Linked DNA regions of Homo sapiens. The protein of the gene in region 1 interacts with the protein of each later gene in a biochemical or structural test. Each region holds a gene or a part of one and is shown on either strand. Other genes may lie near its edges.

The links. The genes of interacting proteins can lie anywhere in the genome.
Region 2: the proteins of TENT5C (region 1) and FNDC3A form a complex in vitro, tested with the Homo sapiens proteins (one study listed by BioGRID).

What each region holds. Positions count from the first base shown.
Region 1 is NC_000001.11:117,601,104-117,609,053, forward strand, and holds the start of TENT5C (terminal nucleotidyltransferase 5C), read left to right. Parts: upstream 1-4,944; 5' UTR 4,945-5,050; intron 5,051-7,950. UniProt on the Homo sapiens protein: Catalyzes the transfer of one adenosine molecule from an ATP to an mRNA poly(A) tail bearing a 3'-OH terminal group and enhances mRNA stability and gene expression.
Region 2 is NC_000013.11:48,971,811-48,978,911, forward strand, and holds the start of FNDC3A (fibronectin type-III domain-containing protein 3A), read left to right. Parts: upstream 1-4,101; 5' UTR 4,102-4,367; intron 4,368-4,851; exon of another isoform or gene 4,852-5,107; intron 5,108-7,101. UniProt on the Homo sapiens protein: Mediates spermatid-Sertoli adhesion during spermatogenesis.

The DNA.
Region 1 (7,950 bases):
GCCAGAGTCATTTTTGAGTGCTTACAACTAAGAATCAAGACTGATATGAGGACTGGAAGACCAATGTCTGAACACTGAGAATGACACGTGTTAGGGGAGTTCGCCATCCCTGGCAGTCGGCCGTATTCTTCCTCTGGCAAGCTATGTGGGAATGACCAGAATCTCTTCCCCAACAGGAATGGACTCCAGTGCTGGGAGCTTCAGGCATTCTGGCAGGATGGTAGGAAAGACATCCTGGGCCTAAATATAAGGCAAGCTCAGAGTGGACCCAGTGGTTGGTCATGAGATATAATGAAATAATCCATTCACAATTTGCATTTTTATGAAATCCCTTTTCCCAGAAGGGAGATTTGAAAAAATGTTAATCCTTAGATAAGAAATCTGGGGCTCTAGAAGTGATGGTAGCCACAGCAAGGTATTCAGAATCTACCCTTTTCTGTTCTCATCTGACTTGCTTCCCAAGGTGTCCTGACAGTGAAATGAGAAAGGGGTACGAGGTTGGCAACGAGACACATCTTGTGAATGGGGTGACTGCTTTCATATGTATCATTACTTCATTTGATCAGCATACAACCCCATGAAGCAGGTAGGCTAATTGCTGTTAGCATTTCCATTTTTTGGATTAGGAAGCTCAGACTCAGAGATGTTAAGCCATTTGTCTAAGGTTTCACCTTGCCTGAAAAAAGGATTGCCTGCCATCTGACTCAAGCCTACATCCTTTCTCCAGGGACATACTGCTAGTGGGGTGGGCAGGAAAGGAGTTTAGAGACACCTAGATTGGAGGGATAAAGTCAGCACTGCTTATATTTGGCATCGTCTTTTCCCTGGCACTGCCACTGTCACCACCATCCCCCTTCTGGATCCCTACTTTACCCCTTCATGCTGCTCTGGTGGCAGTGCCTCTGCTGCCATGCTGTACTTGAGCCTGCTGCTACAGCCATGCCTGAAGATGCAGCCCCTTCCTCTCTTCCTGTCCCACCAAATATGACCAGCTCTAGGTTCCATTACTTCTGGACTTTGCTCCAAATAAAACTTACACCATTTTATTCCAAACCCAGGTCTCTTTCTGCAACACCCGAGAAAAATATTGGGCTGCAGGAGCCAGAGAGGAGAGAGAGATTTACTGGTGAGAGTTGTAGGTGGGAATTGAAAAGCCAAGTCATGTCTTTGCCCCACCAGAAACTCACTAGGATGTACACAATGCCACTGTGATGGTTTTAAAATATGTAACTAACCTGCACGTTGTGCACATGTACCCTAAAACTTCAAGTATATATAAAAAAAGAAAGAACTGCTGATACACATATCATGAAAAAAGACCAAATAAAATAAAAAAATAAAAAAAAATAAATAAAATAAAATATGTCCACAAATGCTTTGATGTTCCTTTGTTTCTTGATCTGTATGCTAGCAACACAGGTTCATTCCGTTTGTGAAAATTCATTGAGCTGTGCTCTTATGAGCTGTGTACTTCTCTACATGTATGTTAAATGTGGACAAGAACTTCACATAAAAATCATTTTAAGAAAAATAAAATATTTAGATGGGGGCATTTGAATAAACATTTGTAATGTTTTTATTACAAAAAACTCAAGACTTAAGAAATTGCTCAAAGAAACTGATAGATCAGGAGATAACTAGACACTATACAAAAGGTCTTTCTTGACTTACAGTAGGACTATGGTGGAATTTCTTTGTTTTTCTGAAGTATTAAAATCAGAATCTATTGAGACGTAAAACTCTTTCAGGATCATCACTACAAGTGAGGTACGCTTGCATTTTAAAGACTGTTTTGTCCCTCGGTTTCCCTAGGTATAAATCAGTGAATCCAGTGAATCATTCAGAATGCAAAGAAGGTCTTTAAACCATTCTGATTGGATGTGCTCAGCAGGGGCTGGAATTTGGCAAGAAGAAGGCACCAATAATCTAGGAAGAAGAGTTTGAATATCTGGTTCCGTGTCCAACGGGCAGAACTTGGCCACTTTCTAAGACTCCTGCCAGCTCCAGGATGCCAGTTTTATGAGGCAGAAAGAACACAGTGTATTTAAAAAAAAAAAAAAAAAAACAACCCTGAAACACAATTCTAGAAAAGTCCATTAATGCATCAGGAATACAAAGGGGCCCAAGAAAAAAATATATATATACATGTATATATATTTGAGAAACTCATATATAGTGAGTTTCTTTTCTGCTCTTAGCTCTCACCTCTCACCTACCATAGAATTGCCTAATTTTATTCAGGAAGTTGAATAAAATTTCACCCAGGAAAAGGTGGAACTAAACCATGCTGGGTCAAATTTTAGGTTAAGAATTTCTGTCCTGTGTTCTACCTTGAGACTAACTGTACTAATGGTTTCCAAGAGGCACTGAAAGAGTAGAAATGGTTGAAAGGCCAATGTAATAATTTGCATTAACTTTATTGTGGTTGGAAGTTTATGGAAGGATGGTTGAGTTACTTGCCCAAGGCCTTATTACAGATAGTGAAAGTTAAAACAATGAAGTTCTTAGAAGAAAACAAAGAATATTATTTTTATGGGCTTAGGATTATTTTAAACAGGACATACAAAACACTAGTCATAAGAGATAAGATTAATATTTTGAATGTCTTTAAAATTAAGTGCTTCTGTTCATCAAAAGATAACATTAGAATAATTAAAAGTCAACACAGATTGGGAAAAGATATTTGTTATACATATATTGGACAAAGGGCTCATATTCAGAATATGTAAAGAACTCTTATAGGTCATTAGGACAGACAACTCCCTACAAATGAGCGAAAGACTTGAACAGACACTTTATTAAAAGGGTATTGAAATGAACAATAAGCATCTGAAAAATTGCTCAACATCCTTGATCATCAAAAAATGCAATTTTAAATCACAATGAAATACATATCCCCCCCCTTTTTAAATTAAAAAGACTGAAAATACCAATACTGGCAAAGATGTGAAACAACCGGAAATCTCATATCACTGGTTGGAACCTAAATTGTTATACGAATTTAAAAACTGGCAGTGTATTTAAAGTTTAATATGTGAACACTCTATGAACCAGGAATCCAATCCTAGGTATATATATATATCCAACATAAATGAATGCTATGTCCACCAAAAGACATGTGTAAGAATGTCTGCAGCAGCTTCATCAAAGGCAGAAACATGAAGCAACTCAAATGTCCACCAACAGTAGGATGAGTACACAAATCGTTGAATATTTATATAATGAAGTAATACACAGTAGTGAAAAAGAATGGACCATTGTTACACACAACAATATGGATGAATCTCATAGACGCACTGTTGGGCAAGAGAAGCCAGACATAAAATTGTACGTGTTATGTATTTCATCCATAGCAAGTTCAAATATTGGTAAAACTAATCTATGGTGATAGAGGTTAAAATAGTGGTAATCCTTGTCGGATACTGAATGGGAAGGGGCATGAATGAGCTGGAAAGGTTCCACATCTTGATATGGATGGCAGTTACATGGGTATGCATATGTAAAAAATTATCATTCTGGACACTTTTGATTTGTGCGCTTTACTGAATGTTATACCTCAAAAACAAAAAGTAAAACAAAAAATCAGATCATATGTCTTGATTTCGCGTCTAACAATAGGATCACTGGCTTTCCCTATAAACACTCATATTGATGTCCTATCGCATTAAAGTTCCTGGATACTCACTCTCCTCTCCCTCGCTGGGAAAGACATATTTGAGAACTCTTCATAGTCTGACAGACAGGAGAACCACACTTATTTCAGGCAGGGTTGGAAGAGTAGGGCGGAGGAGATGTAAATACTGCATCTGGGAAGTAATCTTTTCCCCCAGCACCTAGTAAACGATCAATACAAGTACAATAATGTCTATTGATAAATAACATTGTCCAACATTGGCTACTATCTGATACATACAGCATTTGCCACACACTTTCTAACAGGCACTAGGCAATGCACTAATTGTTTCCCACGTATTTTCTTAATACTTATATAATTCTACAGAGCTGTCCCATTGTTAGTCTTGTCCTACAGATAGGAGACGCAGGTTGTTGGAGGGTTGGTTCAGTTACTTGCCTAAGGCCTTACAGAAAGTTTAAGTGGTGCATGGAGATCTCAACTCAGATTAGTCTGAATTCAGAACCTGGGCTGTAAACCACTCGCTATGTTATGAATGGATGGTGTCCAAGCCCTGCCTGCATGTTATATAACACACTGGACCAAGTGCTGTGGCATTCCGAATGGGGCCGAAGCGGCTGCGGCTGCCGACATTGGCGATGGACTCCCCGAGGCCCTTCGTCCCACTAACTGCACACAGGTGGTCCCCGGGGCCAGAGAGCCGCCGGCGCTCTCTCCCCGAAGACCACGCCTTCGCCTCCAGCCAGTTTGCTTGGGGAATCAGAAAGGTGCCCAGGGCCCAGAAACCATTAAGTTTTTTCCGACTTCAAAAACACACACCGGAGGTAGGCGTGGGCGTTACCCGCCTCACTCCTGGGGGCAGGGAGAACCAACGCGAAAATCCCCAGAGAGGCGGAAGAAAAACCTGCCTGCGAGAGAATAGGATGGAGATGGGAAAAGCCTGGGGAAGAGAGAGTTATGCGGCAGGAATAGCAGAAAAGCGTACTAAGCAAAAAGAAAGGTGTCCCACTAACTCCGAAGTTAAGTGGGTGTCGACGCAGCCCCCTCTATTGCGCTTGCGCAGTGCTGCCTCCCTGAGCACCCCGCCCCTTCCCGCCGCTGAGGATTTACTCGTCTCTTGGCAACCATTCACCCGAAGAGCCAATCAGAGGGCAGCCCTCGCCCCGCCCCTGCCGTCAGGGCCGGGCGGAAGGGTCCCGAGGGGACTGGCTCCGCCACGCCCCGCCCCTGGCTCCCCCGGGAGGGCGGCTCAGGGGCGGGGACGGGGGCGTGGTCCCGCCGTATAAGAACGGAGGGGGCGGCGGCGGGACGGCTCACTCGGTGCCGCTGCCTAGGGGCTGTAGAGGTCGCGCCGCTCCTGCTGGGGCCTGCCCACGCCAAGGACCTGCCTCTGTCGCCTCCTCTTCTATTGCCCAGGTGAGTCCGCGACCCCCCTCCTCTAAAGGTGCGGCGATGCGGCAGCAGCCCCAGGGAGCCGCGAGCTCACTTAGTGGGGGTCCGCCCCCACTAAGTGGTGCTCAGGTCTTTGCCCAGCCTGGTAGGGGGCAGGCGGACCCGAGGGGAGCTGCGGACAGGTGCCGAGACCCGGTGCTCCTTTCCCCTCCTGCTCCCTCGAGGACCCCCGCCCCTGACACACCCGTCCCAAAGGGCCAGAAGAGACGCTCCGAAAGGGAGCTACAACTTTCCAGAGACCTGGGGCTTGGCAAACTCCAGCGAGTTCCTGCTCCGCGCGTCCTGCAGGCTGCGCGCTGGCCAGGCGCGGGCAGGGCGTCTGAAGAGTGTGTGATCGGCGCCTCCGCTCCTACCTGGATCAGACGGCGCCCCCCGCCACCCATGCCTCCCTTCCTGGCTTGCAGTCCCTCGGGCTCGCCCCGGCGCTCCCGCGGGCGCGCACACCTTCGCCGGCCCGCCGAGTGTGAATTCGAATTCGGCGGTTTCACTAGGCGCAGCTGGAGACGCAGCGGTCCGGGGCTTGGATCTGGTTGGGGAGGGGAGGGGCGCTTCCTAGGCTCATTGCCAAGTCCTGAGTTTTAAGGAGAAGGGCGGAGATCCTTAAATTTAATGCGCTCACATCAGACTGTGGACACCATGAGCAGCAAAGGGATCCAAGCCAGTGACTTGTGCGCTGCGCGTCTCTCAGAAACTTCTTGGGAATGCGGTGTCTGTGAAACCTGCTTCCTCTCCTTTTGAAAATGAAACTTGCTTTACTGCGTAGGTGAAAAGCCACGGCAAGTGGGTCGACTCGGACGGATACCGGTGCGGCTGCCCCGGGAGGTGTCGCAGTTCGGGGACTCCCTTCGCACTGGTCGCGAGGCAGGAGGGAGCAGGGTGGGAGGCGAGTCAGAGGAGGGTGACTTACCTGAAGAATACAGGTTGGTAGCCTGCACACCTGAACTCAACGCTGGCGGGCGAGAAAACCAAGCAGCGCTACCTCCAAGTAAGGGCGCTCCCCTGGAGAAATGAATGCCTGGCGAGCTTCTGGAGAACCCACTATTAGGGCTGGACCCTGCGGGAGGGATAGTGTCAGCTCCCTTCCCCTTCGCCCTTTTTTGTCCATAGGTAGGCTTTTGTAGGGCTCTAACCAGTTCCCTGGCTTAATTAAGTAGGGGCCTGCTTCCTTTTTAACATTTTTGCTTTCTTACGGAGATATAAAGTGCATACAAATGAAGTGCTTAAAATGCACTTATAGTAAGAAAGCTTTTATAAATACTATGTGCATAATTATTTGTATTGTGACAACTTGGTCTTCAGGTTACTTTGTAGGTGGGTTAGGAGACTGAACCAGCCCAGGAAATAAAGTTAGGGTGATTAGATCCTCCCAAAGTACACTTCTGGCTGGCTCAGCTGCCCTCTGCGTGCAGGAAAGAGGGTGACCGTTGTTGGCGACAGCAACCTTTCAACGTGAGTAAATTGGCAAGGAAATGAGCCCAGGAAGTAAGTTGGGCAGCCGCAAGAGTGGTAGGAGAGCTTACCCAGAATTTTACTGTCTTAAATCCCCAAGGGTATTATTGAGGGTGTGAGACCAGCCACGTTAGGCCCTGCAGTGGAAAAGGGGGAGGGGGATGGGGAGTAAAGAATGCTGACTTTTCTCTGGGCTTTTAGGGAAACCTCTGAGCTGGGCTGCAGGGGTTCTGTCCTTTGACATTCTTGTTTGTGAAGATGGAAAATGATCTCTGGAGTCAAGCTTAGTTTATTTCAGATAATGAACTTTTTCTCTTAAGGTATACCCATAGCTTTAGAGTACATATATTCTCAATAAAGAGTTTTTAGGAAGATTTTGGTATATTGTATATAATTGTTCAGGTAGCTATGCGGGGGTAGGGGGCTCCCATAACAAAGTTTAAAAAAAAAAAAAAACTCTGCCAGGAGGCCTCTAAATTGTTACCAAAACAAAGATCCCTAATTTCATAAGCAGCTTCAGTGAGCACATAGAATTAACAGCCATATTTCTTACGCTGTTTTTTCCACAATACCTACCTTGTATCCAGGGATTAAATTCATGTAATTCTGAAGGAAAGGATTTGGCTCTTAGCCTGCTTGTCAGAGTGAGCATGACTTAGTTGTGCACCTGTGGCTATCTCTACCTGGTTTCTTCTCTTGTACCGTGAGCACAAGTAGCCACTGAAATCTCCCGAGTTCCAGAGGCCCGTCCCCCCTCAGCTGTATCTCCCCATAGTGCACACATTCAGCCCACATTCCCCCGTGTTCAAGGCCAGGGCAGATCATGCACATCTTGCGCTGCCGGTCAGAGAACAGAATTCCTCATATTTCTGAAAGTCCAAGGAACAGTGCAGCAGTAAAAATAACTTAAAAGTGGGCTGTAGTGCTCTTGTTTTCACAGTACCATTAACCAGACACATTTGATAGAAAATTTAAAAACTTCATTTAAAAAACTTTTTTTGTTGTTTTTACTGCTCAAGTACATAGGACCTTGTCTTCATCTTTTGTCTCTGATCAATGTTGTGTTCATGGAGTTACCTACTAAAGAAATGGAAACCCAAAGGCTCTCAGTGGATGAGTTGAACCTTTTTTTTTTTTTTTTGCATTACTGAGAGAAGTCGTGGAAGCCCAAAACTAGTTTCATGAGTTAAGCTAAACTTATGTTTTGGGGTTTCTTGGTTTCACACCTGTCTCTGGGTGTATCTGCTATTTTGTGTGCATGTGTGTGTGTTTAGGAGTTAAGGAGTAATGTGGAATGTGAGGTTACTTGGAATAAAACATTACTTGGGTTAGATAAGGTCTGTTGCTTTTTGTGTTGTCATTGAGGTAAACAAGGCACTGTAGGAAAATGCTTCCTGCCATCTTGGTGTTTTGAC
Region 2 (7,101 bases), on another chromosome or scaffold:
AAGAGAGGAACAACAGCAATAGTGTTCTGTCGGGATCTGTTCAGAGTTAAGGCCACCAATATTGTTCAGAGAATTCAGTCAGCACACCCCTCCCACCTCAATCTGCTGTCCCATCTCTCCTCTTCATCACCAAACTTTTTTTTCCAAACTTTCTAAATAGTCTCCACTTGCTGTTTGACTTCTTCATCTTCGTCTTTCTCTTTAACCCACTGTACTTTGTCAAGAACTATGAAAGGTCTGAGATTTCATCCTCCTTGCAAGCTAATCACTTAACCTGCTATAGTTTCATGGAAGCTGGCAGAAGACGTGGGGCTTTGCAGTCAAAGGGCTGTATTACTCATGGCACAGCAAGCAGCGCCAGTGTCATGTTCAGTCAGTTCCCTTGCCCCCAGGTCTTACCTGGAGCTACATGGTGTGGTTCAGGTGAGTGATGCACCTGCAGTGGGTTTGCCTCACAGCTGAGAAACTCTATCTAAGCTTAGGAAATCCCCAATCTTTTTATAATAGGCTGCAAGAAAACCTGCTTGACCTTTACCTCCAAAGACATTATCTTCACTATATTGGATGGTAAACAAATGTGCCCCTGCTCTTGGCGGGGAGGGGGAGCAGGGCAGGGGACACTATGTATATTTTCCAAGGCAGTTTGACCAAAAAAAAAAAAAAATCCTTGAAAATATAGTCTAAAACAAAAGCTGTTAGTGCCTCTGCTCACAAGACATGCAGAAATACTAGAGTCCCACAGAGAATTGTCTTCCAGCACATTTCTGCATTTCTTCCCACTAGTCATACAGAAGATTGCTCTCTTGAAAATGATCAGTGATCTAATTTCCCGATCTAACAACCTTCTAGAATCCCAGAAATAAACTCATAGGACAATAATCATTCAAGAAATATTTATTGGGTAGCTTCTATGTGCCAGGCACTGTGCAGGCCCAAATAGACATGGTCTTTATCCTAATGTGGGGAGCAACAGACATTAACCTAGTAGTTACACATACCAAAATGTAGTTACAAGCTGTGGTAAGTCATAAGAGGGGAGGGTATATGGTGGTAAGAGAGCTGACATAACAAGGTATCTTGAATGTATCTGGGAGGTCAGAAATGTTTTTCCCAAGGATGTCGCTTTCAAGCTGAGACCTGAAGGATGAGTAAGAGATAGGATAACTAAAGGAGAGAATGGCATGTACATAGAGCCTTTGGTTGTTGGGATCATAGCATTTTTGAGAAACTAAAAGAAGACCAGGAAGTCTGCCCAGGAAACAAGGTGAAAATGGTGTGAGATGAGGCTGGAAAAGGCAGGTAAGGCCAGACCTCGTATGGTCTTTTAGGCTGCCTTAAGAATTCTAGACTTATCCTAAAGCAATGAGAAACTGTTTAAGGAGATTTTTGGAGTAGTGACATAGTCTCATTTGCTTTCTTAGAGGATAATTTTGGCTGCAAAATGGAGACTGAATGGAGGATCCCAGATTGTATACAGTGAGATCGAATTAGATTGGTGGTGATTGGAAAGAAGTAGACCAATTAGATTTTAGAAATAAAATTGCCAGGAGTTAGTGCTGCAACAAATATGGAGAATGGAAGAATGGAGGTGAGGGAGACATCAGCGGTTACTGACTACTAGATATTTGATTTGAATAACTAGAGAGATGGGGGATAAGGAAAACAAGTGTTCATGAACTCAGTTGGACTAAACTTTGCAACTTTGAGATATTAAGTGGCCATGTCAGTGAAGCTTGGAATTTAGAGGTAGGGTCAAACTTTGACTAGTGGATCAGATTTGGAATTTAGAGGAAAGGTCTGGGCTGGAGGCATATATGTGGAGATCACTGGCATATAGATGATAACTAAAGCCATTGGCGTGGGTGATGCTGCTTAGGCCAAGAGATTACAATGAAAACAGAAAAGAATCTAAAACTGAATTTTAAGGTACTGTTATATTTAATAGTTAGGGAGACCAGCAGGAATATGCAAAGGAATCAGAGAAGCAGTGCCTAGGAAACTAAGGAGGAAAACCAAGAAAATGCAGTGTCAAAGGAAGAAGAAATGTTTAAGAAAGAATAGTGGTCAAAGTGTTGAGTATTGTTGAGAGGCCAAGAAAGATGAGGATTGAAAATGGCTCCCATTTTATTGATAAAAAAAAAGTGAAGCATTGAGAAGAGAACTTGTTCAAAGCCAACATAATTTCTTGACCCTCTCTCTGTTCCCAGAGAACTCATACTGGTGCACATGCTAGGGTCATTTATGTGTGGGTTTTCTTCTCTCCAAAGGCCATAAATTCCTTGGTCTTCACTTTACTTCACCTTACTGCATTGCATATTATTGACTACAATCTCTAGGTCTTCAATAACATTCTTAAATTATGTGTTAATCTCCTTCAAAAACAGCTGATCTTCTTTACTCTGCCTTTACATGTAGGCATGTCCCAAACATATTTTTTTAAATATAGTTTTTAAAAGTGCCATGTCTTGGCCTCTCCCTGGACAAAGGAATCAGAATCTTGAGGGGGTAGATTGCAGGATTCTGTATTTTCAAAAAGCTCCTGAGTAGGAAGCAGAGTAGGAAAGTATTAGCTTAGCGGTAAGTTTGGAAACCACTATCTTAGTCTCAGACCAAGCATAGTTGGGCAGTAAGATGGGGAAGCCACCCCATTCGCCCACACTCTGATAAAATCCTCATACTTTGAAACAATATACAGTTATACTTCAATTATTCCAAGATCAACTTGCCAGCTGTCTCGAAGAGGGCCAAATCCAAAAGTTAAGAAAAGGAAACATCTCTCACAGGGAAAGAACTTCTGATAGTGAAGAGCAATGAAAATATCTCAAGATACCACTGCCCTATTTACAACCAGAAGAAAAGAAACCTCTCATTAGCTGGCTGTGGACATAAACATCCCATCAATCTTCACCTGGAGCCGCAGAGAAAACCAGCCGAGAAAGGAGAGAAGAATGAAAAATAAACAGTAAAGCAGAAAGAATAAGAGGAAGGATCAGAGTGGATAGAGGCAGATGAGGAGATGAAAAGCAGTGAAGGATTTTAGAAGAGGTGATGAGAACATTCCAAAGAGGGAAAAAAAGAGAGCACCAAAGTAGGGATTCTATACACCGCAGCAATCCTCTGGGACTTAAACGTATGGCCAAGATATCGGTTTGAGAGTCAGTTATCAACAAAGGATTTAATTAGCCATTGTATTCTTTAAGAATATAGAGAATAATCACATTTTAAAGAGATTTCTGTAAAACAGTTTTAAAAATACAGCTATTTTAAAAGATCGCACAATTAATACACTGAAATAAAGCCCAGACATGCAACTTGTTACATCCATCACCATTTTTGAAAGGACAGTTCCTGAGGCTGGACTCACCGGCCCAAGTACTACCCCCTCCCCAGGTCTCCGGCGGCAACTGTAAGTCAAAAGCCCTCAGGCATTATTGCAGCGTCCCACATTGTTTGAGGTTCCAGGAAGTCGCTGCTACGCTCACTTGTAAGTCTTCGTGCTGTTGTAAAAATTGAGGTCGTGGTTTTCCACGCGATTTGGCTGGCGAAGAGACCACGAAGCCACCCCCCACGTTTTCAACTGAGTAAATATCTAAATATTTTTGCTTGCTATCCAGATCCTGGGTTCGAAGTCTTTGGGATTAGAAACTTCCAAGCCCATTTCAGAGGCTTCCTAGTCCTTGGGAGGAGTGTCTTTTAAAGCACCTGCCAGCCTTAAGTTCGCGTGCTTTCGGAAAGGGGCCGACAGGGTGCGTCTCAGGGGAGCCTTTTGAAATGTGGATTGAGAATTGTGTGAGTGTCTCTAGGAACCTCCATTAACTCCACTTTTCCTGAGTGTAGCTCCGAGCCTGGCCACAGCGGATGCTACCACAAGCCAGGCGCAGCCGGGCCTCGGGAGAAAGCCGGAAGCCCGAGAGGGTGTGGGCGCTCCGGGAGCCAAACGCGGCCGCTCAGCCGCCACGCGCCGGTGGCCCCGCGGGGACTCGCGTTCCGGTGAGAGAGCCCCGGCGCGGCGGGCTCGAGGCGGGGGTTCGGGGTCCCGGCCGCGGGCTCCGTCGGCGGGGCCCGCGCAGCCGCACTCGGCGCGCCGACTTCGGGCTCCTCCTCCCGGCTCCGTAGTAAGCATGGCGGCGGCGGCGTTCGTGGTCCCTCGGGTGAAACAGAAAGCGGGAGCTACGCGGAGAGGGAGCGAAGAGCGGGGCTGAGGCGGCGGCGTCACTGCCAGGAAACAACCCCAACAGTCAGCGCGCCGGCGGCCGCGGCGGCCCTGAGAGCTGACTCTGCAGCTGAGGTAGAGAGACAACGATCAGGAACCCTAAGAAGAGGCGCCAGAGGAGCCGCCTTCTGCCTCAGAACGGCGTGACTCGGAGGTGAGAGCGCGGGCACTCCCTCCGCGAAAGGCGGGGGACACCGAGCCGTCCCAACCCCGTCCCGCCCCGGAGGAGGCGCCGCGGAAACCGTTAGGCTGGGACTGAGGGCCGGGGCACTCTCCAGGGCTCGGCCCCGTCGAGGGGCGCGGACCACCCCCTTCTGTGGGCGCGCTGTGGGCAGAGGTGCAGAGGGGCAGTGGGGCCGGGGACAGGACCGGTCTACTAGTCGGGCACCTGCCGGGGCCGAGCCTAGCCAGGACACGCTTGCGGGGGCGCGGCCGGGGGCGCCATCCAGCCCAAGAGGAGGCGGCATCTAGCCCGAGGGAGGTGGCGCTGGTGCGCGGGCGGCCCTTCTCTCTGTCCCCCGCCTCCTCCCCGCGGCGAGCCGCGTAGCTCCGGAGGGCTCGGGGGCGGGGGCGGGGGCGGGGGCTGGGGCGGAATCCTCCTGAGAGGATCGCCCAGCACCCGCGGCGCCTTCGGCTTTGGCCGCCCGGCAGCCGCCGAACTTGAACGCTTTTCTGAAGAGAGTTTTCCCCGCTCATCTTGGGGTTAAAACCTCGAAAACCCGCCCTCTGTTTGATCCTGCGTGGCTGCTTCCAGTACCTGGCAGTTCCTCTCCCCGGGCGAGTTAACCACCTGTTCAGTCGGGAGGTGGACTCGAGGCTGCAGTCCTCGCCCGGTTTTAACAACCTGGATCTTCGAACTTTTGACACGGCTTTGGAAACGACGTCATGTGTTAGGTAAAGGAAAATGAACAGATAATTTCGCTGTCAGATTGCGAGCAGAAGAGGGACTGTTTTAATGGATGTGGTCGTTAATTGTTCTTTTATTCAACTGTTAGCGTTACAAGCCTTGGGATATTTTAGAGGGTGGAATGCGATGATTTGCTGGGGGTGCTAGAGATTGTGAATTCGAGATTTTCTTTTGTGAGATTTTACGTAAGTTCCTTTGGACACCTTTGTGTCTGACCATCTATTAAATAAGAGTCGCAGGCTGATGAGATTTTTTTTTTCTTTTTGCGGTATAATCATTATGTGTTCACTATGGGTTTTTAAAACCGAACAACGTAATTATTTTGCTTCTTACTGTGGTCTGTGTTTTTTAGTTCTTGAAACCAAAGTGTGTATGCTTCTGTATTGTAGGAATGAAATAACAGTTGAACTCTTACTATAATATTTTATCACCATGCTGTTACCAGCTCCAGTACTAAACATACGCCACTCAGGAGTTTGAGCCATATGTTAGGCAGAAACGAATTGAGTTTTGTGGTTCTGATCTTATGTTTGGATAAATATTTAGTTTTTGCGTATTTACTAACTCTTGTCATCTTGTGTCACCCACAAATGTTCAAGTGAGTTGAATCCCCTGTCTTTTGGATATTTTCTTGGTTGAATTAATTTTTCTTAAGTAATGAGATGAAGTACTCACTGAGACAGATGGTGGCCCAACAGAAAACAGTGATGAAGGATTTTTACCACATCTTTTATGAAATATAACCTGAAATGTTGCTTTTAGCTTTGTAGCCTACTAATCTTGCTTTCTAATCACACCAGTTAGTGGGAAGAAGGGATGATGACAGGAGAAACATCTTGTTAAAATTTTAATATTAAATCTTATATTTAAATTTTTTAGCACTACTACATTAAATTTTACTATATTGTCTTGTTTCATTTCATAGATCATCTGTTAGTTTTCTATGTGTAGGTTAACTGGAAAATTTTTTATCCCAGGCTGGCTACCGTTAGCCACCTGTATGCTTCTGAATTAACTCCCTCTTTTTCCCTTTTGTCTGAATCCTCCAAATCATTGAATGCTCCGGAAAAATAAAATCCTGGTTAACACTGTCAAGCATAGTTATAAGGGTAATTAATTTATCCCAAATTAATAATAAGCATTAAAAAAAACATTCTAGGATTATCTTCTTTTGGTGACGTCTGTGTCTTCACTTCCTCTATCTGTGTGAGTAATTGAGACCTGATTTATTTTAACACACATGTAATGATTACTCTTTACTAGTCACATTTCTACAATATAATAGTAAGCATATTTTATTACTAATTTAAAAATTTCTCCCTCTTCCCTGACCAGCCAGACATAGCTAAGGGCTGAGACATCCTTAACCCCCCGAAAAAAAGAGGGAATGCATGATTCATATTCTCATTGTCTTTTGTAGTTTTAGGCAAAGAGCATTTAATTTATACTTTATCAATTTTTAGTAATATTTGCGCTGTTTTAAAACATTTGCATTTTTTAAGATGTTCATGACATCCAAGGCTTGTGTATTTTATAATCTGCCAGTATTTTTAAAATACAATTTGATGAAGTAACCAAAAACGTTTTTTTTTTGAAACATTGTTGGTGCATTTTTGAATGAAAATGAATCTAGATCGTGTCTTTGAGAATGGTGTAGGGATATGCACATGATTTCCAATTTTATTAGCCAGATAACTAAGTGATTAGTGTTTCTGGTTTTTTTTTGTTTGCTTTTGTTTTTTTTGTTTTGTTTTTAGCATTGCCTAGCGGACTTCAAATAAACTCACAATATTGTAATTCCGAAGGTTTAGAATATGGTGCATATTTATTCCATTGAGCCTTTTACTGCTTCAGTTTATCACATTGCAAAACAAGAAATATGGCTCCCATATGTGTGAATGTCAAAAACTACTTGTTAAAACGAAATTAGTGGCCATTAATGTTGAAAGGCAAATTTTGTACTTTTACATGTATTGTGAGC